Homo sapiens: one gene and its partners. The protein of the gene in region 3 purifies or fractionates together with the protein of the main gene of each other region. This does not show direct contact. Each region holds a gene or a part of one and is shown on either strand. Other genes may lie near its edges. The genes, in order: SPICE1, TNFSF8, HAUS5 and NPTN.

Region 1 (7,961 bases), on a different chromosome or scaffold from region 3:
TTTCTATTTTTATCTCCATTTTCCCTTGAGTTTGAAATTTTTCATTTAAAAAATATTAACTCAGTTGGGCATAATTATTATTCTCAGTAAATAGTTAATGAGCACCTACTAGGATTAAGACTCCTGGGTACACAAAGATGTATAAGATATGGTCTGTATCTCTCAAAAGCATTAACAATCTGCCCATTGAGATTGGGCACATCCTTATAAAGACAAATGATATACATTAGATGTCATATACTCAATGCCTAAGTTAGGTAGTAATAGTTCAGAGGAGATAACTGTTGGTCAGTTTCAAAAACAGGACTTCAAACTTACTATAAAACGACAGTAATCAAGACAATGTGGTACTGGCATAAGGATTGACATATAAATCAGTGAAATAGAATTGAGAGTGCTGAATAAACATTTATATTTATGGACAAGTGATTTTTCAACAAGAGTTCCAAGATCATTCAATGGGGAAAGAATAGTCTTTCCAATAAATGCTGTTTGGACAATGATTATCCTTTAGCAAAAAATAAAGTTGGGCCCCCCTCCCACCACACACCATACAGAAAAATTAACTTAAAATGAATCATAGTTCTACATATAAGAACTACAACTATAAAACTCTTAGAAGAAAACATAGGAGTATGTCTTTGTGAACCTTGGGTTAGGTAACAGTTTCTTAGGTATGATACTAAAAACTCAAGTGACAAAATAAAAAACAGGTAAATTTGACTTCATCAAAATTAAAAACTTCCCTGCTTAAAGGACACCATCAAGAAACTGAAAAAACAACTAAGAAAATGGGAGAAAATACTTGCAAATTATATCTGATTAGGAACTCAAATCCAGAATACATACATAATTTTTATAACTCAACAATAAAAGCACAAATAATCCAATTTTTAAATGACTAAGGTATTTGAATAGACATTTCTCCAAAGAATATAGTAGAAATGGCCGAAAAGTACACAAAAGGATGCTTAACATCCTTTATCAATTAGGGAAATGCAAATTGAAACCACAATGAGACAGCACTTTACACCTACTAAGAGAACTAAAATGAAAAAGGTGACAGTAACAATGTGAGGAAACTGGAAGCCTCATACATGCTGGCGGGGATGTAAATGGTGCAGCCACTTCATAGAACAGTTTGACAATTATTTAGAAAGTTAAATATGGAGAAATTATATGACTCAGCAATTTTACTCCTAGATGTATACATATAAAAGAACTGATAATACATGTTCACACAAAAACTTGTACATGAATGTTCACAGCAGCATTATACCTAACAATGCAAAAGCAGAAACAATGCAATGTCCACCAACTGAACAACAGATAAATAAAATGGTAGATCCATACAATGGAATATTATTTGGCAATTATAAGGAATAAAGAACTACTATGAGCTGGGCGTGGTGGCTCATGCCTATAATACCAGCACTTTGGGAGGCTGAGGTGGGCAGATTCCTTGAGCCCAGGAGTTCGAGACCAGCCTGGGCAAGACGGCAAAACCCTGTGTCTACAAAAAATACAAAACTTAGCCAGGCGTGGTGGCATGCACCTGTAGTCCCAAGTACTCAAGATGCTGAGGTGGAGATGGCTTGATCACAGGAGGTGGAGGCTGCAGTGGGCAGAGACATACATGCTACAACAGGGATGAACCTTGAAAATATTATGCTAAGACAAAGAAGCTAGACACAAAAGGCCACGTGTTGTATTCCGCATATATCAAACGACCAGAATAGGCAAATACATAAAAGCACAAAGTACATTGGTCATTGCCACAAACTGGGAAGAACTGGGCACAAGGAGTGACTGTTAATGGGTAGAGGGTTTCATTTTGGGGTAATGAAAACATTCCAAAATTAGATAGTGACAATGGTTGCACAACTCTGAATATACCAAAAATCACCAAACTGCACACTTTAAACAGGTAAATTTCATGGTATGTGAACTATATCTCAATAAATCTTAAAAAAAAAAAAAAAAAAAAAACCTAAGTGGAAACATAAAAAAAAAAAGTAGGATTTGAACTAGGATAAGGAAGTAAGGTAAGATTTGAACGGGTAGAGAAGAAGGTACAGAAACTGTTCCAAGTAAGGAATGGGGGCTCAGACATGGAAATACACAGAAATTATTACACTGACTAGAACAATATGTTTGTATAGGGAAGTAATAAATAATGCTGAAGATATCTATAGATTTTTTAAAAAGGCAGATAGATAGATATATATCAGGCAGTACTAGACTGAAGAGATTTCAACTATAAACCCAACATATTTAATGAAACTCTAATACATACTAATTGATATTCCTAGCTCAAATCAGGAAGTCCAGAAGATAGGCGTTTTGATTTTATATAGACATAAACAAGATTAAACATAACTGAACAACTTCCAGGAAGTGCCTATAGTTTCTATTCTAAAGGTTACAAGTCAAATACCAAATAAAACACTGAATAAATGACTTAAGTTTTGATATTAAACTCACCAGATCTTCGGGAGTTGCCCGATGAACGGTTAGATCAGTCACGGTATTCTGTAAAAAAAGGTGGCCTTTCTTTAAAAAAAAAAAAAAGTTTTCTTATAAAATATACACATTTATTGGATTTTAATGGCTAAAATGGTTTCAAAATCCTAGGACCAAAAATTCTTTCTTTCTAGGAACCAGTATTCTCAATTTAGATATGAACACATATTAGTTTTAGGTGTCCTATTTATAGAAAATAACAGACTAATTTTAGATGTCTTACAGAAAATAAGTACTGTATTCACCAAGCAGTCATACACTATAGTAAAACAATGAAAATACTCAAAATGAATATATGATATATGAATAAATGGTAGTATATATTCAAAATGAGTAAGTTTAACTAAAGTTTTAGTTTTCACACTGTAGTCTATGGAATCCCAGGATTCCACAACGTAACGCTAAAGGTTCCTAAAAGAAAGTGAGATCACTGGCTGGGTACAGTGGCTCATGCCTGTAATCCCAGCACTTTGGGAGGCTGAGGTGGGTGGACCACCTGAGCTCAGGAGTTCGAGAACAGCCAGGCCAACATGGCAAAACTCCATCTCTACTAAAAATACAAAAATTAGCCAGACCTGGTGGCGGGCACCTGTAATTCCAGCTACTCAGGAGGCTGAGGCAGGAGAATCACTTGAACCTAGGAGGTGGAGTCTGCAGTGAGCCAAGATTGTGCCACTGCACTCCAGCCTCAGCAACAAAGCGAGTTTCTATCTAAAAAAAAAAAAAAAAAAAAAAGAAAGTGTGATCACTATAGAGAGGTTCAATTTGTGTCTGCAAACATCTTAAGCATAGATGCTACTACAATGGAAGATGAAATTTGAGGGCAATGCATAATTTCATAAAATGTAAAAACAGTCAGTTAAATTAAAAGGCACTAAACTATCATGGCAGGGCTACCACCCTGCACAACTCCATAAGTTACCATTAATATCAGAGTCCGTGTAAATAGCACCCCTTGAAATTGTGTGGTACACAGGCTGCACAGCTCTAAGTAGCAACCCTGTAACTTGGCCCTTTCCAAAGCAACTTCAGCCATTTTGCTACACAGATTTGGTAAGGCAGGAAATAAAACAAGTTAGTTTTACTTCTAAGTGACGAGGAATACGAACAGTCAAAAATGGCTTCTGATCAAAGACTAAACTTTTTGGCCATGATTTATATTTGGCTCAAGGCTTTTCTGTATGAAAACTGTTATTACTTTTACAATGATTTAGAAAGGTACAAGAGCCAGGCATGGTGGTGTGCGCTTGTAGTCTCAGCTACCCAGGAGGTTCAGGAGGCCGAGGCAGGAAGATCTCATCATGAGCCCAGGAGTCTGAGGCCAGCCTGGGCAACATAGCAAGACCTTGTCTCAAAAAAAAAAAAAAAAAAAAAAAGGGAAAAGGAAAAGAAAGGTACAAGGTACAACTACAGGATCATGAGAATTGTTTTTAATAGGCATTTAAAAACTCAGGCATACAAGTAAGTGATAGGCTTGAAATTTGTTCTCATGGAAGAAAATAATAATTCCATCAATACTAAAACCATTGCTTAAAACCATTTTCTTTTGACATTCCATTTAAATCTAATCTACAAGCCATTTCAGAAAATGTTTCACTATTTTTATCAAGACAGTAATAATCAGTTTGATCTCTTCTCCATCATTTACCATTTACTCCAAATGACTTATGACTATTTTCCAAGTTCAGTCTACCTTCAAAAAACAAAAGATTTTTCCAGCACTGCAGATAAAATGAGGAAGGTTCTTAATGCAATTTCAAATGATAGATTTCAATTAAGTTTTAAGCAATAGTGGCATATTGGAATAAATGCAGTCATCCCACAGTATCCAGGACACCCACATATACCAAAATCCACACATACTCAAATCCCACCTAATTGGCTCTCCATATCTGGGTTTTACATCCTGAAAACACTGTATTTTCAATCCACCTTTCGTTGTAGAGGTGGAACCCCAGGATACAGCCAACTGTATTTATTGAAAAAAAATTCATGCGTAAATGAACCCGTGCAGCTCAAACTCATGTTGTTCAAAGGTCAACTGTACTAAACTTCTCAAAGTAACCACTCTGAAGGGGAAAATATGTTATCACATATTTTTTTTTTCCGATTTATCAGTTTCCTTACCTTAGAGTCACATCCTTGTTATTAAAATTTTATAGCCAATCAGACAGCAACAAAACAATCTAAACACAGAGAAGTCCCGCTGCCCCACTTCAAAGGCTGTCAGTTTGCCCAGGATATCTGGCTAACATGGTAGGTTGCAAACAAGAAGATTCCAAGTCCAAAAGAATCCCTGAGATCCAAACTAATCCCTAACTAGTTACTCTTCACAATGGAAAGTAAAGACACCTAAAGTCTCATGGTCCAAACCAAAGTATCAGGTCACAAAAGAGAAATCTAGCTGGGTGCAATGGCTCGCCTATAATCCCAGCACTTTGGGAAGCGAAGGCACGAGGATCGCTTGAGGCTAGGAGTTTAAGACCAACCTGGGCAACACAGCAAGGACCTGTCTCTACAAAAAATATTTTTTTTAAGTTAGCCAGGGGTGGTGGTGCATGCCTCTGGTCCTAGCTACTCAGGAGGCTAAGGCAGGAGGATTGCTGGAGTCCAGGAGTTTAAGGCTGCAGTGAGCTATGATGGCATCACATCACTCCAGCCTGGGTGACAGGACATGACCCTGTCTCTTAAAAAAAAGATATAAATCCCCTTGGTAACACCAGGCAATATTCAGGTTAGGAGCCATACATCACATGTTACAGGTACTTCAGCCTTGTCTTATACCACAAGAGAACATTTGTTCTGAAACCGATCAACCTCTGGAATTGAGCAATTCATGGGATAAGAGAGCAAAGGTCACCTATTTTTTTCAGCCAAAACTGGCACTCACATGGTTATGATATCACTGGTTGCTCTGAGCAAACCTAAAAAAGGTACCGAAAAATTCACAGACTTCATTGACACCAGTGAGCTAGAGTTGCCTTTATGCAGTGAGTTCTCAGAGTCAAAGTGAAAAGACGTTTTTTAAAATATGCTCCCCATCCCCTTAGGATTCCAATTCTTCAGAGGATATAGAGGTTACAGCCTGGATGTGTGTATTCTAAAAACCTCCCCCAAAGGATTCTGCTTTTCCCTCCAAGACCTAGAATATCACATGCCCAGAAACCTATTCCACCCTATTACGTGATGAGCCCCATTCAGAACACCATCTTGCATGACTAGGGCCATATCACTGTGTCCATTTCTCCAGAGTAATGTTACATTATTTACTATCCCACCTATACTCACATCCCATTCTTGTTTCACTGAAGTTTTCTTCTTCTTTACTTTCGGTGTCTTTCTTACACCAACTCGGGGACCACAGCGGTTCACTCTGACAAATGACATCTAGGAATAATAATCACATCAAATTTTTAAAATACAAGAAAAAACAATAAGCATCACCAGAGTGGGGGAAGACACCTGAAAAAAAAAACAAATTTTAAAATGCCAGAAGAAAAATTTAAGCATGATGAAAGGAACAGCCTATCAAAATACTTAGTTCTTTTATTTTACAACTAATAAATGTTGGTACTGATAATTATAATAAAAGAGGTCTCAAGTCAATAACTTATATATTTGATTAAAAAAGAACTCTAGGAATGCAGAAATTATGGCCTAAAGCCGAGAACTAAGACATTCGTCATAAGCTTTGTCATCAGTTACACAAATTTACAATTAGTAGAAAATAGCCCAGTCACAAGCTAACAATATGAATGTAAGGTGAAGGGAAGAAAGGGCAAAAGAGAGTTGGAGTTCTTTTTTAAGCACTCTAACACTCAAAATCACTACCAGGTACATATGGGCTTACTTGAAAATAAAAGTAGCTAAACTTTAGAGAACAAATGAGGTATGATATCACTTCTAATATATCTGTCACATAATGCTAAATGGTGCTAATTATTGATTTTTTTCTATTGCTGATAAACAAATTAATAATTATTGATTTTAAACTAGAATTTTTAAATTGCCAACATTAGTTTGCCACTGTTTAAACAGCAATGCTAAGCACACTAGACTACACATTACACCAAATTAGAAAAAGACCCATAGTCCCCGAACACCAGGATTTTACAATACATATATATGACTTTTAAAAAGCAATACATATACATGACTACTATTGCAGACACTTTTAACCTACCTAAATAATTACAGGACTTTCCAGCTGACCCCCTTACTCCCAATTAGTCTAAAACAAGGACTCTAGTATTTTCCTTAAGTACTTTTTTTTAAAAAAAAATCATTGTCTACTATAATAAAAATGTCTAAATACAAGTATTTCTTAAGAGTTTGCCCTCAATCTTCCTTGCACTCTGTACTCTCTCTTAACAAGAACATTCACTCCTTAAACATGGTATCTAATTTCAGCATTTACAATTTCAGCCAAAGAAAACAAGTCACATACAAGTTAGAAAATAACATTTAAGTTTTATGATGGTAATGATGATGATAGCCACGGTGGTAATGATGGCATCAGCTAACAGATACCGTGTGCTTACTATAAGCCAGATGCTATTCTAAGCTCTTTAAACATTATTTTCTTGAATCCTCACAATAACCCCATGAGGTACTTACTATTTATTCCTCATTTTACAAACGAGAAAACTGAGAGACAAAAGTTAACCAACCATGAAGGTCACACAATTAGTAAGTAGCAGAGCCATAAGTACCATTTAAAAAGATACAGAATATAATAGAACAAAGAGTCTAAAACAAACCCTTACATTTATGGTCAGTTTTTCAACATGGGTGCCAAGACAATTCAACGGGGAAAGAATAGTCTTTTCAACAGATGGTGCTGGGACAACTGGATACGCATATGAAAAAGAATGAAGTTGGACTCCTACCTCACACCATATTCAAAAATTAAATTGATTCATGGATTTAAATATAAGAGCTAAAACTACAAAATTCTTAGAAGAAAACATAAGAGTAAATCTTCGTGAGCCGTGGGTTAAGCAATGGTTTCTTAGAAATGACACAAAAAGCACAAGCAACCAAAGAAAAAAATAAATTGGACGTAATCAAAATTAAGAATTTTTGTGCTTCGAAGGCACAATCAAGAAAATGAAGACAACCAATAGAATGGGAGAAAGTATCTGCAAATCCTCTATCTGATAAAGGACTTGAATCCAGACTATATAAAGAAATTTTACAACTCGACAATTTAAAAAATCCGATTTAAAAATGGGCATAGGACTTGAATAGACATTCCTCCAAGGAAGATACTATAGACAGCTAATAAACACATGAAAAGATGTTCAACATAATTAGTCATTAGGGAAATGCCAATCAAGATACCACCTCACACCGACTAGGATGGCTATAATCAAAAAGACGGACAACAACAAGCACTGACAAAAATATGGAAAAACTAGAATCCTCACATATTGCTC
Region 2 (7,961 bases), on a different chromosome or scaffold from region 3:
TTCAAACTAGAAAGATTTCCTAAGCCCATATCTGAGCCCAAATCTATACTCAGCCTCCTACAGCCATCTCTCAAGACCTCAGGTGTTCTGATTGCCTACTGAGTAGTGTATTTAAGACTTTGCTACTCAAGGTGTGGTCCATGGCCTGGCAACATTGGCATCACCTGGATGCTCATCAAAAATGCAAAACCTAAGGGCCCCTCCCTACTGAGTCAGAATCTGCTTTTACCAAAATCCCCCGATGCTGGTCAGTCTTTTAAAGTGGGAGAAGCACTGCTTTAAGCCACTGTGGTCCACTTCTCACTTTGGCAGACCATGTGCTCCCAGTAAAAATAGTCTTCCCCTGAGGATTTTCTATGACTTCTATTCACTTTTCCATGAAATTTCAGGAGATTTTTCTGCTCAGCTTTATCCTGCCCTCATCTAGAGAGGCAATGTAGCAGGACATTGAAGAGCAGTGCCTTCAAAGTCAAACACCTAAGTTTGAATCCCTTCTGTGCTATTCGCCACCTGTGGGACCTTCTATAAACATTATCACATTATGAAATCACTTCTCTAAGTCTTGATGAATCCGTAACTCTTGGGGTCAAGTTAAAGGCCAAATGAAATAGTGCATGTAGAGTAACCCTCATTAAGTGCCCAATGAATTAGCTTGAAAATAAGAGGTATCCTTGGCAAAAGTCCCTTTGGGCCATGAGCCAGAGCCCACCTTACAAGACTATGTGAGGGCAACAAGGAAAGGAATGTGGACTTCCCCTGGCATATTCCAAACAGAGCTGCCTTTGATCATTTTTGGTCCACGGGGGCATTTTGTGTCCAAAGCAAATTCAGGAGCTCATTGCATCTGCTGATCATTCCTCTGTGAAAAGAAACAAGCCTTTCAAGGTATTGAGGCAAATTAAGCACATCATTAACACCAAGGCAGTGCTCAAAATAGCTATGCTTTTCAAATACTTGCTAACACTTTATAATATCTTATGATGTCCACAATAACCCAGTGGAAAGATGGATGATTAGCCATCTAACCACTGATTAAAGGAGAAGAAAACACTCCAAGGCAAGGAAGATGGTTGGGATGGGGGTCATTTTACCTGGAGACAAACAGGTTAAACATGACCATTCCTCCCTCCATACATGAAAATAACTTTATTACTGTTGGGAATACTCATCAGACATCTACAGAGGCCAAAAACAGAGGAAGTACACTTAAGGAAGTATACCTCGTTGATAACCACGGAGACAAAGTTTCCTGAGCTACTCAGTGGAGCTGAGAATGAAAACCTGGGAGAGTCCATTTGTTTGTGCCTGCATTCAGCCTAGGCACTACCTTACACAAAGCCAAGTCATTGAGCAAGATAGTTCACATTTCCTGAGCTAGGACCCAGATCCCCAGACAAGATTAGGGAGAGAATTCTAGGACTGGGGGACATCTTGCCAAAGAGGAGTTGGTGAACAACACTTAGTGTAATACCTGTTTATGAACAGTCTTCACTGAATTTCAACAGCCATCATCTCCTTAGACATTGCTTCTCCACCTCCAAATGCAGGGACTGCTTATGGGAGAGGGGAGGAGGGAGGAATGAGCTCTTCTATCCTTTGTTTCTGGAAACAGCATCTCTCCTAGGGCAGTGGAAAGTACACCAGAGAATTTCAGTCCAAGATCTGCCTCTGACTCATGAGTGCCTTGGTTTCCTCCTCCATAAAATTAGCTTGATGGACTGAAAGATGTCTCAATCTCCCTCTGGCTTTGATTGTCTAATCTTGACTACCATGGGTAGCTAGGAGAAGCTGTAAAGACCTCATCCCAAGAGCTCTTCAAAATAGGAATAGTCACGCTTCTGTCATGGACTTCCTGGGCCCTGGGTGAAGGTTTAAATGACAGGTTTCTTTCCTGTTTGAGATGCTCTGCTTTTGACATCCCATGTCTGAAATTAGGAAACCAGAATGCATTCAAGTGACAGAGAGAAAAGAGGCTTTCCTTGACCCCCATATAAATTAGGTCCTCCTCTCTGATATTACTTCTCACAGCTGTGCTATTCAAAGTGTTCTGTGGGCCAGGAGTGTCAGTATTACTCGAAAGCTGCCAGAAATACAGAATGTTGGCCAGGTGCGGTGGCTCACGCTTGTAATCCCAGCACTTTGGGAGGCCCAGGCGGGCAGATCACAAGAGGTCAGGAGTTCAAGACCAGCCTGGTCAACATGGCGAAATCCCGTCTCTACTAAAAATACAAAAATTAGCCGGGGGTGGTGGTGGGCCCCTGTAGTCCCAGCTACTGGGGAGGCTGAGGTAGAGGAATTGCTCGAATCCAGGAGATGGAGGCTACAGTGAGCCGAGATTGCGCCACTGCACTCCAGCCTGGGTGACAGAGTGAGGCTCCATCTCAAAAAGAAAAAAATGCAGAATGTTAAACTCCCCCCAAATCTGCAGAATCAGAATTTGCATTTTAACGAGACTCCCAGGTGATTCATATGCACATTGAAGTTCTAACAGCACTACCTTAAAGCACTATGATTCTTTTCCTCCATAGCTCTTGCCACAACCTGCAATTCTAATTACACATTTATTTATATTTTTTAAATGGCTGCCTTAATGACTAAAGCATAAAATCCATAGGATGTCTTTTAGTGACTAACGTAGTTCCTACCACAGACCAGGTGCTCATTCAAGGTGTGCTGCATGAATGATTCTCTAGGACTTCCCGAACTGCTAGCAGCCTCTGCAATGATGGCTGTACCAGGTTTGCTATTCTAGCCTCTCTCACTGTCCCTGTATATGTCCCTGGGCAGCTTGATGAATTTGATGATTGTGGTAAGACATTTCAATGCAGATATTTTTCTTAGTGCATTTGCACATCATGCTAATCAATGGTCACGCTTGGCAGTAAGTTGTAAGTTGTTTATTAAATTTTAAAATGTTGTGTGTTGTCTCACAAGGGCAACATAAAGGGGAATTTTGTGATATCAAGTTTTCCTGCAAACTGCATGCATAACTGAAAGACTACAAAAACTTAGCTTTGTTAGGTTAAAAGCTTTCAACTAAGGCAACAAAGTCGTAGACTGTTACAGTAGGAAGGGCCTTCCAGGACAAGTTTGCCTCCCTTCCCCTGAGAAGGTAGGGCCCAAATGTTTAAGCTGACTTCCCCCATCTCCAGATTGGTGCTGTGCCAGGGCTTTGCCTTCAGGAGACCTCCTTGACTCACTACCAACCTCTTGCACTAGAGAAGAGATCCATTCATAAGAAAACAAGCTTTCAGCGGAAGGCAAATGACAGACCTCCCAGGGAAATGTTACAATAATAGGGGAACTCCAGATGGTCCTAGTGTTCATACAGAACACTAAGAAAATAAGCTGTGGGCGGCTGCTAATTTCTTGCTTTGGTAGAGGTTAGGAAGTTGGTTTTTTCGCATACACACGCTCACACCTCTCTAGGTCTTTACTAATATTTTAATTCAATGCAATACAGGAGATTCCAACCTGGGCAGGTCAAAAGATGAATAAAATACTTCATTCCTTATTGGCAGAATATTGTATGGGTGTCTCCATGGCTGGAGAGAAAGGGGAGGGACAATCAGGGTGTGAAACTTAGTGTCTGAAGAATTTATTAGGGGAAAAGAACTGTGCCTCTCTGCTTCTGTTAACTCCTTGTTGAGAGTCCTTGAACTAGAACCTCCCTTTAGTCACCTTCAATCCCCAGCCCAGGATTCCCTCCTTCAAAAGACAATCTGTTTCTATCAACCTCTTATTTGTGTAAATATTTATGTATATATTTATTACAGAATAAATAATATACTATGTAAATGTTTAAATATATAATATGCATTTGTATGTATACTACATGTGTATACATATTTGTATATTTAAATATAAACTTGTAATAAATCCATAAGGATGGGGACCCAATTTAATTATGTATGGTGTCCTCACAATGCTTGGCATATAAACACACAATTAATTCAGAATTTCCAACCACAGGAGACATAGAGATGTACCTTCCCAGGTATGTTTACAACATACGTTCACAGATGAATCAAACATGGAAAAAAAAAAAACACATCTACTTTTATGATATACTTGATTATTCTCATGTTGACCAGAAGGAAAAAAAAAGAAAAAAACACCCAAACATATGGAGGGGGGAAAAGCACCAGATTGGGAGTTGAGTCCTGGCTCTAGCCGAGTGTGATAGCTCACACCTGTAATCCCAGCACTTTGGGAGGCTGAGGCGGGTGGACCACAAGGTCAGGAGTTCGAGACCAACCTGGCCAATATGGTGAAACCCTGTGTCTACTAAAAATACAAAACTTAGCTGGGTGTGGTGGTGGGTGCCTGTAGTCCCAGCTACTCTGGAGACTGAGGCAGGAGAATCACCTGAACTGGGAGGCGGAGGTTGCAGTGAGCCAAGATAGTGCCACTGCACTCCAGCCTGGCAACAGAGCAAGACTCCTTTTTTTAATTAGCTGAGTGTAGTGGTGTGCACCTGTACTCCCAGCTACTCAGGAAGCTGAGGCAAGAGGATCGCTTGAACTCAGGAGGATGAAGCTGCAGTGACCCATGATCATACCACTGCACTCCAGCATGGGTGACAGAGTAAAACTTTGTCTAAAAAAAAAAAAAAAGTCCCAGCTCTGGTCCCTGATCTTCTATAAATTAACTATGTGGCCCTAGGCAAGTCATTTTATCTCACTCAACCCCGTGTCTCTTGCCTGTGGAACGGGGACAGTAATCCTCATCTTGCATTTCTAATAGATTGTCAAACAAATGGATAGAAAGCCCATTGGAAACTACATCAGTGAATTAATTTTTAAAATTCAGGTGGAGGATGAATTGTAAATTGCACAGTACTTTAAGGACAACAAAATGAAAAAGAAAAAAAAAAGTTGTTTCAACTGAATGTCACACCTCATGCTGCTTTTTTCTTTCTTTTCTTCCAGGACTCCATTCCCAACTCACCTGACAACGTCCCCCTCAAAGGAGGTAAGATCTTGGAATTAGGTGTAAATGTGTAGTAAGTCATCTAGATAAATGCCATAAAGTGTGAAACCTGATTATCAACCAGAAACAACTCTATGACATGACCCAACAGTAAAGTGGGTAGGGGTGGAGGCAAGGGCTGTTCAGGACTGAGCTGATGCACCTGAATTCATCTTAGCAGCTCCTGAACTCATCCCCACAAGTCTCCCACCAGCTCTTGACACTCCCACTAATGAAAATTCTACCTCTGGCATAGGCAGGACTGCAAGGCAGTGTTGTGTTAAATGCTTGAAACCTGAAATCAGATAAATGGGGGAATGAATCTTGGCTTGACTTCCCACTGGGGAGCCTCAACTCCTCATCTGTTAAATGGGAATAATAATAATACTCACCTCATCAAGGTATTGGAGAAGCCATTCAGATCTCATCTGTAAATTGCTTGGCATGGCAACCAGCACATAGTAATCATTAAATAACTAGTAATAGCTAAAATGCATAATGAAGTCAAGGACTTGTGAAAACAGACTTCCTCCTCACTCCTATATTTCCAATCATTGAAGTCACTAATTAACACGTCGTCTCTACTAGCCTCAGAGAGATGATATGCCGAGTTCAGTTAACATCGATGATGAGAAATTTTCAGATGACCTGATTAATGTTTTTATTGCTCAGAGAAGGAAAAGGAAGACCCAGAGAGGGAAAGTGAAGTATCTCGTCCAAGGTCATACAAAGCCAAGCCTAGAACCCAGAAAGATGTCCTCATCTCTGATACAGTGTCTTTTCTGCCCAAGAACACCAACTCCCATCTCAGTCCTGTAACCTTTAGAACCTAGATGGCAAACACAGCTGGATAGCCAGAAAGCTCAGAGCAAAAAGTAAGGAAGTGAGTTAATGTAGGCACCAGGGTAGTGGCACAAGAGTGTCCTTGAGACCAGAGGACACAGATGACTGGACACAGCTCCTCACACTCACAGCATCACACTTGGAGTGTCCTTCAAGTTTCCCTTGCCCATGCCTTTCCTGTGGTTTATCACCCAGAGACTTCAAAAATAGGGGCAAAAGTCCCCAAAAGACAGGGATTCTGGATCTTTCAAGGCAGACTAATAATCATAGCCTTGTCAACAATATCTCATTTTGGCTGGAATTACTTAGCATGTGACCTCAGTTCCTACCATGTCTATGTAAACAGTCACATTAATATTAAAAGGAGCATAGTAGAATGCAGGGGTAAGCAAACTTTTTCTACGAAGGGCCAGATAGTAAACGTTTAGGCTTTGGGGGTCACTATGTCTCTGTTGCAATTAGTCAGCTCTGCTGTTGTAGTGCTGAGCCAGGCTGACTACACGCAAATAAGTAACCACGGTTGCATTTCCATAAAACGTTATTTATCAAATGAGGTGGTGGGCTGGATTTGGCTTATGAATTGGAGGAGTCACTGCAGGCTTTGGAGACAGATGTTTCAGTTAAACATGTAATGCACGTTCACACGGAGCTTTGGAAAAACCAAAAGGCTCTGAGTGAATATAACTTGCCCCTCCCCACTCCCACTGTTCCACCACCACCTCCACCCAGACTTTCCAAGGAAGATGGAAACTTTTCATTTTTTGACAGGGAGAAGGGATTTTTAACATGAACACGGTCTCAGTGACGAGGATAGTTTTGATTAGGTAATAAGACCTTAGCCATTCTGGATCTCAGTTTCCTCGCCTAAAGAGCACTTCAATGCAAAGTCGCCAAGCATAGGGGCTCTAACTAGTATTCTGGTACCATAATAAAGTTGATAAAGTTTTCATCAGTCCAAAGTGAAGTACAAAAAATAAGGACACGGTAGCCCCCTTTTCACAGGGCCAACTATATCTAATGTAAGAGGCACTCTTCCTCTGAGACGGTCCTTCATTTTTGTGTGTCAAAATGTCCTTTTTTTACAACATGAAGTTGATATAGACAGGAGTTAAGTTGGCTTGTTTTTTGCCAGAGTTATTTTGTTTTGTTTTAATCATCACAATAGGCAAAATAAAAAGCTGTCCACTTCATATTGGTCTCTGAATTTTCATTCTGGGGAGAAATTTCCTGGGTCTATAAAGTCCAAACTTTTCACAACCATGGACGAAATCACTTATCACATTTCTTCTTATCTGGACCATGAATGGGAATATCAGAACACAAAGTAATCAAAACCAACCTCAGTTTACAATTCAATGTTTCCACAACCAGATTTTTTTAAATGCTAATAATATTCGGTTGGTGTAAAAGACATTGCAGCTTTTGCCGTTATGTTCAATGGCAAAAACCATGATTACTTTTGCACCAACTCAATAATCCCCATGGGACTGTGAAACTTTTGTTAAAGACCTTCCCATACCTCCTTTGGGTTCATTCTCACCTCAACCCTGTGAGCAAGCCACAGCAACATGGGGAATAGTCTTCCCATTTTGCAGATGATGCGCTGAGGCCTAAAGAAGCCAGGTGATTTGCCCAAGGTCATACAAGGAGTTAATGGCCAAGTGAGAATCCGGGGCTCCTCCCTCTTCTCCCTGCATGACCGGCTTCCACCATGAGATGCCAGTGACCTGCTGGAGGCAGTACCTGACTTTCTCTTGCTTTTAATGCAAGTCAACATCCCCTTAATTCAGCAATCTGCAGAGACACTGTAGTAGGGTGAGGTAGAAAAAATATTCCTGGGCTCCAGAACTGACCACATCAACAAGTCTTTTCTCCTCTCTGAGCCTCATCTGTAATATAACAGCAATGTACTAAATGCCCTGGAGGAGTCTCTCCAGCTTTGACCCTTTATGAGACTATAATTCTTTTGTACAATATGTAAAAATAGAAGAAAAAAAACCTAACAAAAATCTCAAGGAAATCTGAAGTCACAGCTTCCTTCCCCAACGAACCCAGCTTAAACAGGCACAGAAGCAGTAAATTGTCCCTTTTGAAAAAAGCCATTGCAAGACATTCCAGGCAGAGGGGAACCATCTTTCAGGTACTCT
Region 3 (7,582 bases):
GGGCCACAGCTGACCCTTTTTTTTTTCCCGTAGCCCTCACAAGTGTTTTATTCTGAGTATTTTCAAACATGCACATTAAGGGGAATAGTATAACGCACTCTTAAGTACATCTCAAACGCTACCAATATTCAACACTTCTGGATTTCACTTGATCTATACTTCTTTGTCACGCGCGTCCGTGTGAAGAGACCACCAAGCAGGCTTTGTGTGAGCAACAAGGCTGTTTATTTCACCTGGGTGCAGGCGGGCTGAGTCCGAAAAAGGAGTCAGCAAAGGGTGGTGGGATTATCATTAGTTCTTACAGGTTTGGGATAGGCTTATAAAGTACATTCTCAAGGGCGGGGAGAATGTTACAAAGTACCTTCTTCTTTTTTTTTTTTTTTTTTTTGAGACGGAGTCTCGCTCTGTCGCCCAGGCTGGATTGCAGTAGTGTGACCTCGGCTCACTGCAACCTCCACCTCCTGGACTCAAGGGATTCTCCTGCCTCAGCTTCCCTAGTAGCTGGGATTACAGGTGTGTACTACCACACCCGGCTAATTTTTGTATTTTTAGTAGAGGCGGGGTTTCACCATGTTGGCCAGGCTGGTAGCAAACTTCTGATCTCAAGTGATCCACTCGCCTCGGCCTCCCAGAGTGCTGGGATTACAGGCATGAGCCACTGCGCATGGCCTTATACTTTTCTTATTTTTATATTTTTTTGCTGGAGTATGTTAAAGCAAATTCCAGACATCAACTCAGTCATAAATGCGCCATTATGTCTCCTTAACAGATAAGAACTATTTTTTTTTTTTTGAGACGGAGTCTCGCTCTGTCGCCCAGGCTGGAGTGCAGTGGCGCGATCTCGGCCCGGCCGATAAGAACTATTTTTAAAAAATACCATTAACGCTGGGCTCAGTGGCTCACACCTGTAATCCCAGCACTCTGGGAGGTCGAGGTGGGCGGATCACCTGAGGTCAGGGGTTTGAAACCCGCCTGGCCAACATGGTGAAACCCTGTCTCTACTAAAAATACGAAAATTAGCCGGCCGTGGTGGCGTGCGCCTGTGGTTCCAGCTACTCGGGAGGCTGAGGCAGGAGAATTGTTTGAACCCGGGAGACAGAGGTTGCAGTGAGCCGAGATCGCGTCACTGCACTCCAGCCTGGGCGATAGAGTGAAACTCAGTGTCAAGAAAAAAAAAATACCATTAACTATGCCATTATGAATACCATCAAATTAATTTCTTAGTATCATCTAACACCCAGACCGTGTTCAGTTTTCCTTGTCTCAAAAATGTCTTTATACGATAGTAGAATCAGGATCAAAACAAGGTCCAAATATTGCATTTGATTGTCTTTTTTTTTTCCTGTCAAAACTTAAATTTTTGCTTGCTCAGATGTTTACCAACAAGAAAAACTTAGAGGCCAGGCGAGGTGGCTCACACCTGTAATCCCAGCACTTTGGGAGGCCAAGGCGGGTGAATCACGAGGTCAGGAGTTCAAGACCAGCCTGGCTAACGTGGTGAAACCCCGTCTCTACTAAAAATACAAACATTAGCTGGGCGTGGTGGCGAGCGCCTGTAATCCGAGCTACTTGGGAGGCTGAGGCAGGAGAATCGCTTGAACCCGGGAGGCGGAGGTTGCAGTGAGCCAAGATTGTGCCACTGCACTCCAGTGACAGTGCGAGACTCCGTGTCAAAAAAAAAAAAAAGAAAATTTAATTTTATTGGCTGCCTTGGTTTCTTGAAGCTGCAGTATGAATCAGTACAAATGAATACCTGCCTGCCTGCCATCTTTCTTTCTTTCCTTCCTTCCTCCCTTCTTCCCTCCCTCCCTTTCTTCTTTCTTTCTCCATTCCCCCTTTTGCCTTCTCTTTATTGAAGAAACTGGATCATTTATCCTATAGGGTGTCACACATTTTGAATTTAACTAATTACATCCTTTTTGTTTCACTTGTTTCTGACTGCCTTCTGCCCCTTTCCCATATGCTTGTAGTGAGAGCTAAGGCTAGATGAGATTTAGGTTTAATTTGGTAAAAGCACACTTCATAGATAATATTGTATGGTATCATATCCCTTGTATCCTATTGGATCCCATCAGAAGCACAAGATGTCTGGTTGCCTTCCTTTGGCATCAGGATTGATCAGTGGTGTCATCCTGGTCTACCTATTTTAAGAAGCCCAATCAACCTTTCCCCTAATAGTTTTAGTAGCCCTTGATCATCATTACCTGTATCCATCACTAGATTAATTAATAGCAAATAGTGGTTTTTGAATTCTAGTATTTTCTCTGAAGTTATTAGTTGTGATTCTTCCATAAATAACCTCTTCATCAGAAATTTGGTTACTTAGGCTGGGCACAGTGGCTCACACCTATAATCCCAGCACTTTGGGAGGCTGAGGCGGGCAGATTACCTGAAGTCAGAAGTTTGAGACCAGCCTGGCCAACATGGCAAAACCCCGCCTCTAATAAAAATACAAAAATTAGCCTGGCATGGTGGCGCGCACCTGTAATCCCAGCTACTCAGGAGGCTGAAGCACGAGAATCACTTGAACCCAGGAGGCGGAGGTTGCAGTGAGCCAAAATCTCACCATTGCACTCTAGCCTGGGTGACAGCACAAGACCCTGTCTCAAAAAAAAAAAAAAAAAAAAGTTGGTTACTTGTTCACATATAAGAAAAATAGAGAACATGCTGGATTATTTTATATATAAAAAATTTTTCAAAATAATGAGTGGGTTCCTAGTACTCTTCAAAGGTGATTTCAATGAGGTATATGAGTATCAACATGAACTTACACATTCAGGCATATTTGATGTGCTTCAAACCACTGTGGTTCTTTTTGCTGCTCAACATGTCCCACCTTTGGTGAGTGACAGCCCTTCAGACTGGCTCCTGAGTTCCTTTGACTTGGCCACAGTAGTCTTGGAGGACTCTTTGCTTCCTGGCACAAAATATCCTGGACACATTTTGCACATTTCTTGCCCCAGACCTGGAATCAGCTGTTTTCACAAAAGTCCCTAGTTCTTAGTCAGAAATGGCACTTATAGAGACCACAGTCTGTATACTAGTGCTGCTCAGTGTTACTGGGGTGTCATTATATTTAGACCTTTTCAGGGGACTTAACTAGGGAAATACATATTTTTTAGAAAGAGAAAAATCATGACTTTATTCTGATATTTCCAATTCATGTGAAAGACTACAGGGTGTTTACTTGAGTTTATATTTGTTATCTTTTTTCATTTACACTAAAAATCTTGGTCCCCAATGACATTACATCACTACTTATTTGCTTTAGTATATAATTCAAAAAATATAAGGTAGAATCTCAAAAATTTAAACGGTCTATTTTATCAAAATAAAAATGCCAGTGTTATTACTAACAATGTGACTACTGTATGAAGTTGAAGATTTTGTTGAGTTCAGTTGAAGGTGGGGGCTGGGAACTGTGATGAGGAGAGAGAGGAGGAGCAGACACACTAAGGACTACATGGGAAAGCCAATGTGGAAAGGCTGGGAAACAGCAGCCAGGGGCAGGAGGAAAGCTGGGAGAGTAAAGGGACTCTGGAGGCCAAGAGAGGAGTTGTGTGAGAGATGGACAGCAAGGTTCAAGATCATAAAGCTGCCAAACTTCCAAATTTGAAAACTTACTGCAACACCAGTAAAACTACCATCTGTGCATGTTTTTCTTCTGGGGCCAGCCAAATTAAATCTAATGTTCACTTAGTTTGGGAAAAAAAATTTACTGAGACAGGGGAAACTAATCCCAGCAGGTGAAGATTTGGGAGGCAGAGGCGATAGAATCACTTGAGGCCAGGAGTTGGAGAGCAGCCTGACCAACATGGTAAAGCTCCGACTCTACAAAAAATACAAATATTAGCCAGATATGGTGGTGGGTGCCTGTAATCCCAGCTATTCAGGAGGCTGAGACATGAGAATTGTTTGAATCCAGGAGGCAGAGGTTGCAGTGAGCTGAGTTCATGCCACTGCACTTCAGCCTGGGAAACAGCCAGATTCTGTCTCAAAAAAAGAAAGAAAGAAAGAAAAAGAAAAGCACCTAAGAGAATCCAGCCATTTCAGATATGGCAATGTGGTCAGGCGCGGTGGCTCATGCCTGTAATCCCAGCACTTTGGGAGGCCGAGGCAGGCAGATCACTTGAGGTCAGGAGTTCGAGACCAGTCTGGCCAACATGATGAAACCCCGTCCCTACTAAAAGTACAAAAATGAGCTGGGCGTGGTGGTGCGTACCTGTAATCCTAGCTACTGGGGAAGCTGAGGCATGAGAATGGCTTGAACCTGGGAGGCGGAGGTTGCAGTGAGCTGAGATCATGCCACTGCACTCCAACTTGGGCAACAGAATGAGACTGCATCTCAAAAAAAAAAAAAAAAAAAACAAAAGAAAACAAGAACAGATATGACAATGTGTCACAAGCCTTTCTATTAAGCTACTGTAGGAATGACACATGGAGAGTTAAATACAAAGCAGGTCTGGAGAGAAGCCAGATATAACCCAATTAAACATGGAAATTTAGTGCATAAAAAGGTGGCATCTCAAAAGTGTAAGGGCTTTGCTTTATAAATTGAGTAACCCACGCAGTGAAATGCACAGGCCTTAAGACTACAACTACATGAGCTCTGACAAATCTCTACACCTGCGTCACCGCCGCTGCTCTTGACACAGCACATTCCCATCAGCTAGGACATTTCTGTGTCTCCTCCTCAGTTGATCCCTGCCACCCACCTTCCCTCAGAGGCAACTGCCACTCTGACTGGGAATTTCAGTAAGTGCTACTAGGATATATGTAAAATAAGACAAAATTGGATCCATGTGCTAGGATAAATTCCAAATGGCTGATTTACATGTAAAAAAAGAAACTATACAAACTAGAAGGCAATCTCATCTTTTAATACATTCCTCACCCCCAACCTACACTGTCCCCCTCAGTGGCCCTTATTGCAGCACATCCTGGCTCAGGGCCTTTGCATGTGCTGTTGCCTCCAGCTGCAAGCCCTTACTCAGCCACCCCTGTTGCTCCTGCTCACCCCTTGACGGAGCACGACCTGGGCAGTGTGGCCCTCAATTCAAATCACACATCCCACCCCCTGCTGGATTTCCCACACAGCAGTTAACTTGCAGCATACTACATATATATTTTCCTTATCTTGTAAACTCTGTCTCCCTGCCCTAGAACTCAACTGCTGGAAGACAGGGTTTTCTGTTTCTTTTGTTCAGTGTGGACTCCCCAGCGCCTAGAGGAGGTGCTCAATTACTTTTTGCTGAGAATGAAAGTGATGAAGGGGTTTTAGGGGGTGCTTTAGCGGGATGAAAGGACAGGGTCCAGGAGCTGAGTGGGGCAGCAGAACAGCACATGAGGGGACTGCAGGTGCGGGTGGGGACGACTGCCGAGGAATCCTGGCGCTGCTTTCTTCCAAATGTCCTGGGGGAGGTGAGGTGTTGGGGTGAACAGTGTCAAGTTCTCGGCTTCCGTTTGAACCCTCTCTTCAGCTGCACAGCTTCTGCAGGGCCCCCTGGGCCTGAACCCAGCGCAGCCGCCACTGGGGCAGGGACAGGCCCTGGCAGAGCTCCTCAGAGAGGGCGGCCTGGCCTGGCTGCTCCCACCTGGGGAATGGCATGGCGTCAACGAGGAAAGGACTGACCCTCCAGACCCTCCCTGCAAAACCATGGCCTGCTCCTTCTCATCAGGCCCCCAGCTTGAGTCCTGACTTTTCTGTTTCCCATCCGCGGCACGTTCCCCTCTCACCAGTCCCCCACGATCCCCTGCAGCTCAGGGATTCGCTCCAGTGCCTGTTTCAGTAGCTTCTCCAGCCTCTTCAGAGCCTGCCCCAGGTTCTCTTTCTGCTGTTTTTCCTGGGATGCCTGGATCTGCAGCAGCTCTGAGGGTGAGAAAGCCAGGAGGCAGCTTTGAGTCCTCTGGCTCGCTGGTACCTTACAGCAATGAGTCCCCAATTCTCCAGTCCCCTAGTCTTGACCTCAGCAGCTCCCGCAAACCAATGATGAGTCTGTCTCCTTCTCTTCCCAGCCTGGAAGTCCCCTTCTGAGGGACTGCCCTTGAGATGAGGACCTGTCCCTCCTCCCAGATCCTCATCTCAAGGGCAGTCCACCACCCCCAGCCCCATCCAGGCCTCCTTCTGGATGCCTTCCTCCCTCCCCGTGAGAGCCCATCAATCTCCATGGCCTGTCCGCTCAGTCTCCTGAGCGTTTCTTCCTCTCCTCTGCTCCAGGCCTCAGTCTCCTGCTCTGGTTCACCCTCCGCACTACACCACAGTGATCTTCCTGAAGCCTAAATTTGATGCTCTCCCTCCTGTCTAGAACCCTCCAAGGTTCTCCAGTGCCCCCAAGGCAGAGTCCAAGCCCTTCAGCAGGTATTTGAGTTTCATGATGTGGCAAAGCCTGGCCGATTCCCAGGGCCCACAGTAGAGAGTATCTTTCCTCCTGGAGGCCCCTCCAACACTCTCGCTCCAAGGCTTCCTCCTCCGCCTGCTCTAGCTTCACCCTAGCGGTGCTTTCCTCTGGGACTGGGACTGGGCCTACCTCTCCATGTGCACAGAACAGGCCCAGCTCAGCAAGTGCAGACGAGCAGCGTGATCAGACAAGCTGGGCCTGAATCCTGACCCCATCCCATCCCTGCCCTGTGACCTTGATCACGACACTGGCTCTTTGTTCAGCTCCGTCTGCTGTCAGGTGGAATTACTGGGGCAGGGGACCGATGGGAGAACTCTGGGGATGGGACCCTTAGGGCTTGCTGAGAGGCTGAAGCTGGTGAGGGTGGGGGGATTAGGGTGATGGAGAAATTCAGGATGACTCCTGGGTTTCTGGGTGCAGCACTTGGATGAGGAGGGTGAGATAATTTAACAAGGAAGGAAACCAAGAAGAGGAACAAAATTGTTTTTTGGAGTAGAGAGAACCAGGAGTTCCATGATAGATGTGTACAGTTCAAGATGCCCATGATTATAAGAAATATAAAATTAGCTGGGTGTGGGGTGCATGCCTGTGGTCCCAGCTACTCGGGAGGCTGAGGCAGGAGGATGGCTTGAGCCCAGGAGGTTGAGGCTGCAGTAAGCCAGGATGGCACCACTGCACTCCAGCCTGAGTGACAGAATGAGACCTTGTCTCAAAAAAACAAAAGCAAAAACAAAAAACACATGAGGTGGGCAGAGGGCGTGGTAGGCAGAGGCTGAGGTGGGCAGAGGCCGTGTGGGGTCTGGGGCTGCTCTCATTGCTCCTGCACACTGTTCCCTCCCCTTGTGAAGAAGTGGAGGGCAGGGAGCCCCAAACTCAGAGGCTTGAACAGTCTCTTCCTCCAGTGCTGCTGGCACTGCCGGTTCATTTCTCATCAATTCTCCTCTTCCATGTATTTATCCTTTCATTCTTTACTCTTTACTTCCATCTGGGGAAACCCCTGGGGTGGGGACCTTTCTCCTCACTCCCCATCAAGCCATCTGGGCTGGCACCTGGTAGACACCCAGTATTTGGTGAGTGAATCCAGGAATGAATGACTTCTCTAACCTTCAGTTTCCTCATCTGTAAACTGGGGTTCTTAAAAGTCCCTTTCCTCATCGTCATGACTCCAAGAGACTGTGTGTGTA
Region 4 (7,961 bases), on a different chromosome or scaffold from region 3:
CAAAAAGATGGCTTTAAAGTCCGAATAATGAAGAGTTGACTCTCTGGTCAAAGGTCCTTTGTCACTGCATTCATCTCACTAGAAGGTTTTATGGTTTCTAAATCCACTTAAATTTTGCCTGACCTTAGCAGGTTAGCATTAAACCCAAGAGAGACTGAGTTACTTCCTATTTCCTTCCTTGTTTGGTCCTATTGCATTTTCTCCATGAGGTAACTTGTTATTGACCCAGATGGCCCCTAGTTAACAGACCAGACACCGAATGCATGTTTTAGGTGTCATTTTAAAAGTCACATTTCTTTTCCAATATCCCTAGTCTGTATAAAGCTTCATATGCTACCAAATGTTTTGACCAACGAATAGATTTTGGAACATTAGAACAGCTCTTCATTCTAAAGTGTCTAAAAGAGCTTGGATATATCAGAGCCACTAAAAATGGCCCCCCAAAAAACCTCAAATATCTTCTCCATCAGTAACTTAAAGAGAGTCCCTTTGACTTGCTTATAAAAAATTATCCCAAGGTAAAAACAGAAAGTTCTTTTTTGGTACCAGCACTTCTTTTCTTAAATCAGCTCCTGTTTTAATTTGCTGTCTGTGAGGTCACTAAAATATCCAGAAGAACTGCAGGCCTCAGCAACTAAGTGGGTTCACTCCCCATTCCTCCAGGGCCTGGGGAGGGGAGACTCAGGAGCACAGGCTGACTGCTCCTGGAGTGCAGTCCGCAGGACACCAACACAGAAGGTGCACCCAAGCAGGTGCCCAGCTGTGACATGGATGGAAGCCTAGAGGCTGCTAGCTTGACCTGGTCTTTTTAGAGAACTATCATTTAACATTTTCAGGGAATACAGTCAAGTGGTGAGTCAAGTGAACAAAACAAAGCTCTTATTTGACTCCATGATTCACTTGTTCCTGAAAATACTGAAGGTAAAGGTGATCTGTAGATTAGTCCACCTACAAGACAACCTAGTGGGCACTGATCCTCAAAGAGACCATACAGGGGACTAAAGGAATGCAGGTGGGTGTTTTCATGTAGGAAATGGTCTGAGAATACTCCAGTAGGTAAAGAAAAAAGACATGGGGCTTTTTTTTTTTTTTTTTTTTTAAAGGAAGCAGCTAAACCTCAATCCTAAGCATTTTCAATGTGAGAAATCTAAATATTTGATTTTCTAGTGAAACATACTTAAACTAAACTATGTAAGTTCAAATTTGTGCTTTTATACTTTTGTATTGTTCACTTAGTGCTTTTGTAGTAAGGGGATGAGTTACCAAGAACTCACAGACTGCCCAAAATATGACGACTGTGCATTCATATAAAAAAAGTTCAGTGAGTCTGAAATGAGCCATGGGTGTATCTTGATAATAAAGTGCTATTTGGCAAAGTAGAAGTATGGCAGGCCTATAAAAAAATTCCCATTTTCCTAATGGTATAAAAAAAATCCAACACAGAGCCACAGATGGTTATCTGATAGGTAAACACTTATGACCTCTTAACACTCCCAAGTTTGTGTCAAATATAATGTACCTCTTCGTTTATTCCAAAAGGAGTGTACGTATATATCTATATGAAAATTTGGGGAGAAGCACATGGGAAGGAAGCAGACAGGTAAGTTTGTCCTTCCTATGGAGTGCACAGGGGTTGAGGGGAACTGGCTAAAGAAGGAAAAGGCAGAGAAGAAGGAAACTCACCAAAGAACATTCAACTTTTTCTTTTGTTTAATGATTACTTCCAGGAAAGGAGAAGAAAAGCGGGCAGGGGTGGAAGCAGGATGGAGTTTGAGAGAAAGACAGAAAGAGACAGAGGAGAAAAACAGAATGGAAATACTGGAGCAAGGGCAGGGTGTGAAGATGGAGAGTGGAGCCTGGCCCACACTGGCTGTCAGGAAGGGAAGGAGAGAAGGCAAACATTGCCATCATTCCAGCATCTCAGATTTTTCACCCCAATGCAACAACAACGAAGTAAACGCTGCTTTCATTACAATACTCTCCCAAGAGACTAGAGCAAGGAGGTTTTACTTTGCACTTACCCTGCCGTCATCTCTTTTAAGGGTAGGATTCATTCACTGTCTATAATAACTTAGTTTAAAAGAGGTACTTTCCCTCTAGGAAGCTGTTCAGATTTGCTGGCCACAGATGTCTCCTATAACAAACTGGTCCCCCATTTGATTTCAGTAACCAAGAAAACTCTTACAAAAAAAGAGCTGCTTCCCTGGGCAGGTGTCTGCACTTATCCAACAGAACAATCCTAACCATTTCTCAAATCTAACCTACCACATGCACTGTGATAGCAACCTCATAAGCGCGGTGACTTCTTAGGGCAAAGACTAGACCTCTGCTGGGAACACGCTAGGCTGCTGCATCACTCTCACCAGTGGCAGCCAGCCTTGCCTTAAAATTTAAAAATCAGGTTCTGAAGTCCATCTCTGCCTTCTCTTACCTGACTTTTTAGCTTCTCAACCTTTCCAAAAGGCAGGCTGAGGAAGGTGGTATTGGCAAAGCAAAAGCATTCTGGGGGGATAAAAAGGCCCTTTTCAGGAATGAGGCATAACTGATCCCACAGAGCCAAAGCTGAAAACACACGAAAGACAGGCAACTCTTTCCCTTTACTCCCAGGTCTAAATAAAGGTGCACTCTTGCCTTGGGAGTCCTAATATGTAGCAGGAAAGAAATACCTGGAGAGAAAAAGCATTAGGAGTACATGAAATCCCAAAGAAAGCAGGTTCACTTCATAAAGTAGGAAAGTAAAACTCATGGGGACACTCCCAGGTTGCAGGAAACTAGAGATTCATTTGCAGAGGCCGTCTGCTCCCAGCCAACGTCCTTCCCACGCCTCTGCCCAGCTCACTGCTGAGTGCACATCTGGAGGGAGTCACCAGATATTGTCAGTGTCATCAACAAACCTCCTCACCAGCCACTCACTCTACTTACTGCAGGCAGAGAGATTTATAACTGCTGAGAAGAAAGGAAAAGATGGGGAAGGGGCTGTTGCTCTCAAACATGTCCTCCCAGAGAGTCTAAAGCCACTGGCATGCCTCTGGGGCCACATTCTTTCTGAGGGAGCACCAGATGTCACTTTGTATTCTCCACTGGACAGCCAGCTCTGTGGGGCAGGATACAGCACCACAGGTGCACAAACACAGGCCCCAGAACAGCTGGACTACAGCTGGCAACCCCACCATCACCCCGGGTAGGCTACCACTGAGCCCAGGGGCACACCCATCTGTCTAGTCTAGCCAGGGACAGACTAGTGGTGGTAACAGTCGGCCAATTAATTTCTGTACGCCGGTCATGTTATAGGGTGGGGATGGGGAGCCAGCTGGGAACCTGAAGTACTGCAGATACAAGTCTCCATCAGCAGCTTCCCCCTTCACAGGAAAAATCGATCACCAAAAATTTCCCAAGGCTTTTCTGACTCTAGGCATATCCAATAACCTAAGATTTCAGCTCTTGCTCTTTCCAGTGCTCAGTGGTGTGCTGTGGTTCTGCTGCTACCATCTCCTCCCTTCTCTGACCCTAGGCCAGCTTGAGGGCACAGCCTCGGGGCATGGACTCCATTTGTTCCGCCTTTGCTATCTCTGTCTTACACTAGATGGGTGGATACATCAGACTCTCCTTTGTCTGTGAGACACAGATGGAAAGCCACCCAGCAGAGAGCGCTGGAAACCTATCAAAGGGACCAACCAAGGAACCAAAAGCTGGCTTGTTCCAATGGCTTTTCTGAGAACAGTCTGACTGGGCTGGGGCAGTTACCTACAGGGGCTACACCAGGCAACCATGTGACAACCAGTTAGATACCTTAAATCTGCCTGAAAGGCCAGGTGGCCTGCCATCTTGGGGTGGCTTCTAGGCTTGACTTGGATTCTCCTCAAGCTCAATCTGCCTGATGATCTGTATTGAAGGAGGACAGAGCTGAACAAAGAGACTGACAGCTGCCCATTCACCACATGGGGCCTGAAAGGCAGATGGGACTAGGGTTTGGAAAACACCCAAACAGAGGGAGAGAGCTAAGGACAGCTCTAGATGGCTAATGCAAAAAAAATAAAAATAAAATAAAAATAAAAAATAAAAATAAAAAACTCTTACGGGTAGGGGGTTAGGAACTGGTATAAGAATTTTCCTTCTTTCCTTTAGGGATTGAATCCCAACATCCCTATAGTCCTCTTTGGGTACTTGGAAACCACCCGAAGGAACCAACCCCAGCAGTACAGCTATTTTGTAGGGATGCTCTTACCGTCAGGAACCTCATCTGGCCTCTTCCTCTTCTCATACACAACAATGATCACCACAAGGATGATAATTTCAGCCAGAATTCCCAAGAAAGGCCAGAGTGGGGCCAGGTGGCTCCGCACCCTGAGGACAGTGACAACAGAGGCGGAGCCAATGGCGTTGGTGGCATTACATTCATACTCGCCAGGGTCTTCCGTGATCTGCAGGTTCACAATGTTCAACTCAGTGTAATTTTCCTTGTTGATGATGAAGAAGCGGCCAGAGGTATTGACAATGTCCTGCAAAAAAGTGAGAATACACAAAGGTGAGAGTGAGTAACTGAGCTAATGTTCAAGAGAGGGTGACACTGCTCTCCGTTCTTTTTAGGCACCAGCCAGAATGAGGAAGCAGTGTCTAGGAACATTTCATTAATGATTTCCCTTCAGTATCAACAACAACAAATCAACTTCTGACAGAGCCAGGCAAGCCTCCCTTACCATCGGTCCTCCAGACTTCCCCGACTTCCACGAAGTGAGTGCAGGTCCTACTGCCTGGAGACTCAGAAAAGTCCAACAACCTAGTAAATGCTGCCTCCAACACCAGGTAAGAAACCACAGCAGAAAGAGGACGGCAGAAGGAGGGGTACAACCCCTACAGTCAGGCATGCCTCGGGGACCTCAGGCCTCTCTGATGACCTCAGAGTCAGCACACTGACTTCACACTTGGTGAGTTCTGAGGAAGTCTCCTTAAACTTCCTCCACAAACAATGCTAAGAACTCACTCCTAGTCAGACTGGGGGAAATTCATAACTTTCCTTTCATTTAAGGACTAGAGGTTAGAGGAAAGGTTATTCAATCAATCAACAAATATTTGTGGCTGGGCACAGAGGCTCATGCCTGTAATCTCAGCACTTTAGGAAGCTAAGGTGGGAGGATCGCTTGAGCCCAGGAGTTCAAGACTGGCCTTGGCAACAAACTGAGACCCCATCTCTACAAAAAATCAAAAATAAAATTAGCTGAGCATAGTGGTGTACACCTGTGGTCCCAGCTACACAGAAGGCTGAGGCAGGAGGATCACATGAGCCCAGGAGGTTGCTGCACTCCAGCCTGGTAGACAGATCAAGACCCTGTCTTAACACAAAACAAAACAAACAAATAAAAGAGAACAAATATTTACTAAAATATGCTGCATGCTTTATATCCTACTAAGGGCAGGTGGGAGTGAGAAGGTGAGATAGGGAGAAGACAGACCTAGAAATGAATAAGGAGCTTGGCCTCAAAAGGGAACCAGACATCCAAAAAGGGATGACTGATTTCAGGAATGTGTTAAGAAGCCCCAACAGAGCGTGTGTATAGAGTGCTGTAGGGCACAGTGAGTGGCCACTGCTGGAAAGAGTCAGGGAAAGCTTCACACATGAGCTAACATTTGCACTAGACTGTGGAGGAGGACAGCTGATCAAACAGGGAGGAGCAGTGCAGGCAGGGATTCGCATGGGTGTGAAGGCAGAGGTGCAAGAGTGCACAGGCAGAGGTCGGGACTCAGCGGGATGGCTCACTGCACTCAGCTCATGAGATCCCGGCAGGGAAAAAACAGACTCATGTGTCTTTACCCTGCAACAACTAAAGCACAATCAGAAATAGGAGAGAAAAAGGGGAATATTATCCTGGAAATGATTCTAGATATGGCATACAATCTTGTCAGCATTTGAGTGCAGGTACATCTGAAATGGGGAACTCGTAAGCTTTTAAAACAGCTAGTCTGTGATGCCTCAAGCTTCATCTTTCAGATTAAAACACATACTGCGTTAATTCCAACCTGCTTTGGCAAAAGCTCAAGGGCACTCCTTCCCAGTGACCAGCAGAGAGAAGTGGACATTTCCTCTCCAGTGCCTTAGAAAGTTCAGTGTCTTGTAAAAAAGACTCAGCATCTTCACCTCGGCAATCCTCATCCTGCTCCTCGTTAACGGGTCTCTGAAATCATCGCTGATGTTGGAGTCATTATCACAACTCAACATTTTATTATCAAGATGTCATGAAGTAGGAAGAATAATGGACTTGAAATTTAAAAAAACTAGATACAACTCTTGGTTTTGCCACTAATTTATCTTGGCTACTATGGAACCCTTCCAAAGAAGATGGATTAATGATCTTTAAGGTCCTTTTGGATTCTGAAGACTGATAATCAAAGAGGATCCATGGGATCAGAGGAACGCTTGACACGCTCTCTGACAGAAAAGGTAATGGGTCAACAATCATAATGAGAGAGAAAGTGAGGTTCTAAAGCTCTGACTCTCCAAACAACATCATGAATCATCCCACTGATCGGAAAAGATGTTCTCTTTGACATTTTCTGGGGCAAATACCGTCAGGTTCCCAATGTCTAAGGCTGCCAAGGCTGCCCTTGGGCCTCCTCAGGTTGCCCCGATTCCTTATCAGTATGTTCTGTGTTGCAGGAATGTACTAGTAATTGCCCTCAGTACCTTGGGCCTCCTCAGGTTGCCCCAATTCCTTATCAGTATGTTCTGTGTTGCAGGAATGTACTAATAATTGCCCTCAGTACCTTGTTTCCTACTAAAAAAACAAGGCAGGTTCTCTAAGACCACTTCAAAAACAGTATTTTCTTCAGGATAAATGGACGAGAATTAGGCTCGGTTCTTTCAGTGTCCTATCCTGAAGGCAAGTGATATGGTTTGGATTTTGTCTTCACCCCAATTTCATGGTGAATTATAATCCCCAGTGTTGGAGGAGGGGCCTTGTGGGAGGTGACAGGATCATGGGGGCGGATATCCCCTTTGCTGTTCTCCTGACAGTGAATTCTCATGAGACCCGGTTGTTTAAAAGTGTGTAGCATCTCCCTCCTTCACTCTCTTCCTCCTCTCCAGCCACCTAGGACCTGCCTGCTTCCCCTTCACCTTCCACCATGATTCTAAGTTTCTCTACTTACAGGGATCACTTAAGAAGAAATAAACAGCAACTGCAGTCTAAAAAATAGGTAAGTTTCAAGGATCAAAGAAGCCTGAGGGGGAGGCTAATTCTTTGGATTTAGCTTTATCTTAACTATATTACCTGTCAATGCCTCACCTTCAGTTACAGTAATCTGAAAGCAATAAAACTCAAAGCAGGCCAGATGTCACTCTGTTGTCTAAGATAGGAAAGATCATCTTTCCTGTGTTTCCTGAGGCCTCCCCGGCAATGCTTCCTGTAAAGCCTGTGGAATCATGAGCCAATTAAACCTTTTTTCTTTATAAATTACCCAGTCTCTGGAAGTTCTTTAGAGCAAAGTGAGAATGGACTAATACAGTGAGCAATCTAATCTCTTACCAGAGGGACAGCTTTAACAAATCACGTACAGGGATTTTTGTGCTGGAAGAGACTGTCAATGACCTCTTGATTCATGCTGTAAACCGTGACTCTAGAAAGGGTGACCCTCGCCATGCACACATCCGAGGATACAGCTACTACAGTAACTGACCCACGTGTCTGGACCTCTGCAGGGAAAACTCCAGCAACCAGAGACCCGGGCCTGCCTCCTACTCACCATGGGCATCCCGTTCTCCTTCTTGCGCCATATCCAGTCTGGGTGGGGGTAGCCAACTGACTTGCAATACATAGTGGCATCCTGCCCTTCATTCTTGTTCTCACTCCGTTTATGGCCAGTGATGTCAGGAGCGGCTGTGAGAAAGCGTTAGACGCAGTTACCACGGAAGTCTACTCCAAACAGGATACAAAGGCCCCACCTTCTGGCTCAGAGCCCTGCTTGTA

Evidence for each region.
Region 1: the proteins of HAUS5 (region 3) and SPICE1 purify together in Homo sapiens (affinity purification with mass spectrometry; one large-scale study listed by BioGRID and IntAct). This does not show direct contact.
Region 2: the proteins of HAUS5 (region 3) and TNFSF8 purify together in Homo sapiens (co-immunoprecipitation; one large-scale study listed by IntAct). This does not show direct contact.
Region 4: the proteins of HAUS5 (region 3) and NPTN purify together in Homo sapiens (co-immunoprecipitation; one large-scale study listed by IntAct). This does not show direct contact.

The regions. Positions count from the first base shown.
Region 1 is NC_000003.12:113,500,696-113,508,656, forward strand, and holds part of SPICE1 (spindle and centriole-associated protein 1), read right to left. Parts: intron 5,911-7,961; coding exon 5,812-5,910; intron 2,533-5,811; coding exon 2,485-2,532; intron 1-2,484.
Region 2 is NC_000009.12:114,915,109-114,923,069, reverse strand, and holds part of TNFSF8 (tumor necrosis factor ligand superfamily member 8), read left to right. Parts: intron 1-4,931; coding exon 4,932-4,974; intron 4,975-7,961.
Region 3 is NC_000019.10:35,620,888-35,628,469, reverse strand, and holds the end of HAUS5 (HAUS augmin-like complex subunit 5), read right to left. Parts: intron 5,870-7,582; coding exon 5,737-5,869; intron 5,595-5,736; coding exon 5,477-5,594; 3' UTR 3,115-5,476; downstream 1-3,114.
Region 4 is NC_000015.10:73,565,925-73,573,885, forward strand, and holds part of NPTN (neuroplastin isoform b precursor), read right to left. Parts: intron 7,872-7,961; coding exon 7,738-7,871; intron 4,500-7,737; coding exon 4,226-4,499; intron 3,883-4,225; coding exon of another isoform or gene 3,866-3,882; exon of another isoform or gene 3,790-3,865; intron 3,620-3,789; exon of another isoform or gene 1,014-3,619; intron 1-1,013. UniProt on the Homo sapiens protein: Probable homophilic and heterophilic cell adhesion molecule involved in long term potentiation at hippocampal excitatory synapses through activation of p38MAPK. May also regulate neurite outgrowth by activating the FGFR1 signaling pathway.